2 linked regions of the Homo sapiens genome follow. The protein of the gene in region 2 interacts with the protein of the main gene of each other region in a pairwise test. Each region holds a gene or a part of one and is shown on either strand. Other genes may lie near its edges.

Region 1 (3,825 bases), on a different chromosome or scaffold from region 2:
TGTTCTAACTTTTGAACAAATGAGCGTGGTCAGTAATGTACAATAACTCTTGAGTCTGTTACTTTGGCCTAGCTAAGCCCATCTGGCCCTCGGGCATCCTGCAAGATGACAGACAGAAGAGCAAGGGCACTATCAGAAATGGAACAGGCTGCCCCCTACTCCTCCCAGCCTCTACCAGTACACAGAGACAGACTGGAGATAGAGCATTCGCAGCCAGTTGGCATCTTGGTTCTTTTGTCTTCTGAAAATAAAAATAAGTGCTTGTCTTGTCTTTGGGGGTCAAAGAGAACCGCACTAATTTATTTCCTCGAGGGGGCTTTTCTGGAGGAGAGGATCCTCAGTCCTGTGCCAAGGTTTCACGCTGTTTGGCCACACGCCAGGCCTTTCTTCTGGATCTGGTCTGCACGTCCAGAGATGATGGAGGAATTGCATCAGCATCATATGCACAGTGAAAGGGTGGCTCTTGTCCAGAGAGGCCCATTCCGGGCCTGGCTACATGGCCTCAGGGCCTGGCGGCAGTTTGAAGAGTCTGGCTGCAGATAGGAGCTTTCTTATGTGTCTCTCCTCTGTGATGCCGGCCTCCTGAAGGCAAGTGTGAGACAGAGAAGGCACTTGGCTCAGTGTGCTGAAGCCCGCGGTGGAGAGGGTGCCGGCGTACATGGGCAGACCGATGGAAATGAGCCAATCTGACACAGACGAAATGCACCCAGGAGAGACGGGCTTTCGGCAGATTTCCGTGAGTCCACCACTTGGAATCTGGATAAATTAAGAAAGAATATGATAGAAACGCTCCATGTGTCATCGAGGACTACTTCGCGTATGTCTAAAAGGAACAGCACTGAAATACTGCATTGCTAGACTATTATCAGAAAGCGACAATGCAATGAGTGTCAGAGATCAAGACTAGCAGGAAAAATTCTTCTCTAAGATGAAACAAATCTTTAAGGAAGAGTTCCACAAGGTTCTCGAAGGTGTTGGAATGAGGTCAAATCCCATTTATGTGTCCGAGTCTTCAAACTATAAGCATTTACATATTCTGCTATTTTGTTTCACTGTGGATATGCTCTTGACAAAGAGCCCTAAGGTAGTCTGAAGGGACAAATCTGGGTGATCGTGTGAAATGTAGCATTCAGTGGGTAGGGTTTTTATAAAGGAGACTTTCCACTGTATTTTGAATCTATGTTAACAACCAGAAAATTACATGTTTAGTCAATACAAGTTATGAAGAATTTAAAATACAATAATATCAAGGGTTGGCTGGAACAGGGAAGTGGACATTTAACCTTGACTACTGGGTATATAAAGGGCCTGCACCTTTCAGAAAGGTGATTTGCTAACGAGTATGAAAATCTTTGGGATTTTATACAATTTTGATGAAGCAAACCATCTTCCAGGAATATCTACTCAGAAATTAACCTTTAAAGTCTACAAAGATTTATTAACAAGGATGTTCTTCATTACATTATTTAAAATAAAAGGTTAGAAAAATCTAAATGTTTTAACTATGAGACTCACTACTAGAGTACACTGACCTACTAGAATACTTTGAAATACAATAGCCACCCCCCTGCTTATCCATGGTTTTGCTTTCTACAGCCTGAAAATATTAAATGGGAATTTCCAGAAATAAACAATTCATAAGTCTTATATTGCATGCCATTCTGAGTAGTCTGAAGAAATCTCACACCACCCAGCTCTGTCCCACCTGACAATCATCCCTTTGTCTAACAAATCCACGCTGCCTACACCACCAGCCCCGCAGTCACTTAGTAGCCCGTAGTCATCAGATCAACTGTTGCGGTAATGCAGTACTTGCATTCAAGTCACTCTTATTTGACCTTACAATGGCCCCCAAGTGCAAGAGTAACGATGCTGGCCATTCGCACGTGGCAAAGAGAAGCCCTTAAGTGCTTCCTTTAAGTAAAAAGGTGAGAGTTCTTGACTTAATAAGAAAAGAAAAAAAATTGTATGCTGAGGTTCCTAAGACCTACAGTGAAAACGAATCTTCTATCCATGAAATTGTGAAGGAAAAAGAAATTTGTGTATAATATATACAGGGTTTGGTACTCAGCAAGCTTTCAAGAGATCCACTTGGAGGTCTTGGACCATAATCCCTCATGGATAGGGGGAGACTACTGTATTGATGATATCAATTTTTTTTTTTTTAAGTAACAGGGAAACAGATTCATGATCTGATAATAGCCAACAATCAGGTTTCGGTACTATACATTTACGCATACATTACGCATGTGCAGAGAAATGACTAGACAGAGTTTTAATGGACAAGTAAAAATTGTGTGTATTTATGGTGTAAAACGTGGTGTGTTGATAAATGTACACATTGTGGAATGGCTAAATCAAGCTATTTGACATATGCATTACCTCATATACTATATTTTGTGGTGAGAACACTTAAGATCTGCTGTCCTAGCAATTTTCAAGTATACATTGTTATTAACTGTAGTCACCATGTTGAACAATAGATCTTTGGAAGTTATGCTTCTAACTGAAACTGTGTCATTCAGACGGATTTTATTTTATTTCTTAAGAGATGGGGTCTCACTATGTTGCCCAGGCCGGCATCAAAATTCTGGGCTCAAGCAATCCTCCTGCTTCTGCCTCCCAAGTAACTAGGATTACAGGTGTGCACTATCACGCCCAGCACTAGACGGATCTTTAAAAAGTTTTTCACAGTGTTGGGATTACGGATAATTTTCATTTTTTTTTTCTTTCTGAAAGTGTATTTTTAAACATTTCTAGGCTGACCACATATTACTTTCTCCCCAGCTGTCTCCTTTCCATAGCTACGCAAGCCCTTGCCTACTTGGCAGTTGTTAGTATGGTCATCACTAAGCGTGATCACTAAATGTGCCTCAGGAAGCTGGAGAACTGTGGGCTGCTCACCGCCATGCGGTGCTGCTTCCGAAGCTGCTTCACCCGGATCTGGTCCATGTTGGCGGCGACGTCCCGCTCGGGCTGATCCAAGTCCTCTGCGTATCTCTGCACCAGGGCTTCAGGAATCCCACAGCGGCCATGCTGCCAGGGAGAACAGGAATATGACATCAAGAGTCATAAGGATTTTGTTTTTCTTTCCCTAAGATACACCACATATAACGTAGGGTCTCACTGTCACTTAGACTGGAGTGCAGTGGTGTGATCATGGCTCACTGCAGCCTCAAACTCCTGGGCTCAAGCGATCTTCTCGCCTTGGCCTCCCAAAGTGTTGGGATTCCAGGCGTAAGCCACCACACCCAACCCAAAAGTTTGAATTTGAAATGAATATATTTTCTTTATTGGTCAGGATGAATGCTTTAGAGGGAATACTTTTACATCTTTATCTTAAAGTACTGATGAGCTCTAGGAAAATGTTCTGAAGCATAGTTAAGGCAGAACACAATTATTCCACATTTTTCAGGACAATGCCTTCGCCTCAATCAGATCATTTTGCAAAATACAACTCCTCTAATGTTACTGAAGAGAGTCTTCTAAACTGCAGGAGAGAAGGGCTAACTTCTGCTTTACAGATATTCAACTGTTTGCACTTTATCTGCTACAAGTGATACCACCAGCTCACTAGGCCAGCATTTACTGTATGGTCTTTCTCACTACCTTTCATTTAAAGACATTCACTCAGGAAATATCAAGGAGGGTCAGAGAGGTGGAGGAGGATCTGATTCTAAGGCATTCATTGTCATGAGAATTTTATAATAAAGGACTCTCAGGAATGCATCCTAATAGGACCTGTATTTCCAGGAGTAAAGTACTGCTGTATCTGTTAGCATTGCTTTGTCTTTGGAGTCACTTGGTATTGGTAGATCTCATTTT
Region 2 (3,486 bases):
CAGTGGTAAATAAGTTTTCATTTCTATCATGTACTTTTCCTCAATTCTGAAAGGTCAGCAAGCATACTGAGGATTTTAAAGTCCTAGAAGGAAAATAACCCAGGATTGTGCATTCTTTGGCTTATCCTCTGAATTTAAAGTTGCTTCAACACAAGGACAAAGATTCATCTCCCATTGGAAATGTACACATTAGTATAAACTCAATAGCTTTTGTTGGCTATAACAGGGTATACCTGTAGTTTCAGTTCTCTAGCAGAGAGAGAGAGAAAGAGAGAGAGAGAGAGAGAGAACCAACTTCACCTTTTACCTATCTTCACTACTGATTTACCCAATGACCTTTGGCAAGTACATTTTTCAATCATGAAAATGTTTATAATGCCTAAAAGCCCCCCTTGACACCACATAACCCCATGACATCAACATACTCACAAGACTCCAAATAGAGATGCCTGACTGAAGCCTTTTCAATCTTGTCACTTTAGATAGGATCTATCTCTCTGGTGATGTTTTATGATGATCCTAAGGCCTTTATCTTAACAGTCTGATAAAATCATGATTTCTGGGTAAAGTTCAAGTATCCAGAGTTCTCCTGGGTCCCCGGTATTGACTCGAATGTTGAATGTGTGCTTCTAAACATTCAATTCCTCCTCTTCCTCCTCCCTCTCCCCACACTATCTGTTTTGTTCAGTGAATATAATTTTTTAAATATAAAAGGAACATGTGTAACCAATATGCCAAAATAAAAAACACACTGACAGTAGGTAGCAGTTTTCATAATTTAATGAAAAAGTATTGGTAAAAAGGGGACATTTGAAAAAGGACTGAGCTTATCTTGGAAAACTGGACTATATAAGACAAAATGAAAAAAATTAACAAAGAAGGTTAAGAGGTAATACTTCAAACAACAAAATGTAGCAAATACATTTTGGGGTAATTGAAATTTACAACTGAAGGCTCCTTCATTTACCTAGGAATATCCTGTAAAAATATTACAACTATATTTCCCTGACGAATGATATTTTAGTCAATACTCTCCCAATGGCATTACATATGGAATTTGGCTGAAGCACTGTTTTGATGTTTGCTTTTCCTCCCACTCAGAATTGAAAGGCATGAAGGGACAAAGGCTACCGCACTGGCCTCTGACATAAGGAATTTATAACACAGCTCCATCATAATTTCATTACCATGAAGGTATCAAATTAATATCTACTCCAGAGAACTCAAAGAAAAAGCACAGAAACCTAGTGCATAAATAGGGGAAATTCTCTTCCTCATTTTGATAGTTTTTTTCCCAAACAAAATACAGGACACCTACCACACATGCTATGGCATGTTTACACATGTACATAGGCACAAAAGAAATATTTTGAAGATGTAGCCAAAAGAGAGGCAAAACACATACATTTTCAGAAAAGGAGAAAGCAAAAAGCAAAGGAACCCATTAACAACGTTACAAGAACACAACTGGGGGAGAGGAAAACTGCTGAGTTTTCCATATTGACGGAGAGAGGGCCCCTGCCTTGACTGACTGGCACCTACTACAACTGGGCTGTTTCACCAGTAAGAAGCTTTAAAAATGGAAAATGGCCTCTTTTGTCTGAATATTCCCACTACACTTTCCAAAACTAGAAGAAAGAGAATATTAATTTAAGGCTAAGAAGAAAAGAGAGCTGAGAATTATAGTCTGCTTCACATTTAAAAAACGGCATCATTTCTCTCTTATTTAAATGAGAAGCAGACATGTTTTTATCCACCCCCCCCCCCGCAAATGTAATTATTCTCTTCCTACTAGAAATTAATCAAGGCTGATAGTTTGGGAACAGGGTATAAGCAACTTCTGAAAAATGGCTCCAGCCTTTTTGTTTGGGAAACTGCCTCAGATTCAAAGGTGACACAAAGCTAAATTATATCCATGTGTTAAACACATGCTTTCAAATTCTGTTTGACAATAAAAATCTGTTTCAAAATTAAAGCAGGTAAGAATACTTAACCTCTGTGCATTTTACTATATTTTAATTATACCTCAATAAAAATTTTATAAACATTAAAGCAGGTATACAAAAACTGTCAGCCAAACTTATTTTAGTCAAACTTATTTGAAAACAACACAAAAACCCTGACCTGGTACAAATACCCCAGAAATGGTCTCACTTTGGGAAAGGCTCTGGAATCCTTCACAAATGCCTAAACAGAGAATCAGAGCATTTTCCTTGGAAGTAGTACTTTTGTACTTTTGTAAACACTATCCACAAGTTAGCCTTTTATGCTTGTCAGTCAGGTGAAATAGTTATGAGTGTGTCCCCAACAAGCAAGTTTAGGAACAGGCACTGGACACTGATAAGCATGAGGAGTATTGACTCAGTAAGTTAAGATACTGTGAAAGAAACTCAACCTTGTGCAGAACAAAGGAAGACAGTAGTGAGTTTGACAGTATCTAAGATGGTGGTCTCCTGGTCTCTCCCCTGAAAAGGGTTTATAGATACCAGTGGAATTAGAAACTTCCTACAGACAGGAGCTCTGGGGAGTCACATGCTGTAGCTTCAAAAGATAAGTAGTTTTAGTGTCTGATAATCATGGTCTCTTGCAAATCAGTTAACAATGCAAGGACTCTTAATACATATACTTGTCAATGTGTTATATAACCGGAAAGCTGCCCCAAAATATTTACTGAGCAAATACCCTGGGCCCAGCTGTTCCCAATAGCCTCTGACAAACCAACCTCTGGACAACCTGCAATTACTGTAATGTGCTTGTAAAAACTAGACTTGAAACATTTTCAAAAACTGCAAGACAATTTACTATGGAAAAATGTTATCCTTTTCACTGCAATTCCTCTTAACATATGCTAAAATCCTTTTGGTGTATGGGTTTTCCCCAATATATGGGGCAAAGGCAAAGGTTGGGTCATCCTTGGAAGTTTCTAATCACCTTTGCATTGAACTGTGGGAAAGGGGATGTGTCTTGCTTTTACCATGGCAATCCCGTCTAGAGTCATGGGGAGGATTTTCCCTGTCTGAGCTATCTTTCCTTACCCTGACTTTTTCTTTATTCCCATCACTTTCTGCCTCTGAATCACTCAGCTCCAAATCTGGGCAATAGCCATCATTTTCCTGATATGGAGCTCTCCCTGCAGACCGCCTGAGAACCTGTCTACCCCAGAACTGCTCCTTGGGGCTCATATTCTTGGTTGGCTTCACATAGCACTGGAGGTCCTCTGTGTTCTTCACCCACCTATTGGTGGTCTCTTTAAAGGACCTACTAAAGTGTTCTACAGTGGATTTTCTAAAGCTGCCCTGACTGACCAAGTGGGGGCTGAACACAGGCTCCTGGTCACAGAACATCTCACTCGAGCTGTCTTTTTGGGTGACATTCCCAGACCAGCTGCCCTCCAGGCCATTGGATTTGGCAAACTTGGAGTTAGGCTGACTTTTCCCATTCCCAATGGAAGACTGTCCATGGAGGGCAGCCTGAAGGACCAGAGGC

Evidence for each region.
Region 1: the proteins of JADE3 (region 2) and SASH1 interact in a two-hybrid assay, tested with the Homo sapiens proteins (one large-scale study listed by BioGRID).

Annotation. Positions count from the first base shown.
Region 1 is NC_000006.12:148,545,226-148,549,050, reverse strand, and holds part of SASH1 (SAM and SH3 domain-containing protein 1), read right to left. Parts: intron 3,037-3,825; coding exon 2,905-3,036; intron 757-2,904; coding exon 493-756; 3' UTR 1-492. UniProt on the Homo sapiens protein: Is a positive regulator of NF-kappa-B signaling downstream of TLR4 activation. It acts as a scaffold molecule to assemble a molecular complex that includes TRAF6, MAP3K7, CHUK and IKBKB, thereby facilitating NF-kappa-B signaling activation.
Region 2 is NC_000023.11:47,058,519-47,062,004, reverse strand, and holds the end of JADE3 (protein Jade-3), read right to left. Parts: coding exon 2,928-3,486; 3' UTR 763-2,927; downstream 1-762. UniProt on the Homo sapiens protein: Scaffold subunit of some HBO1 complexes, which have a histone H4 acetyltransferase activity.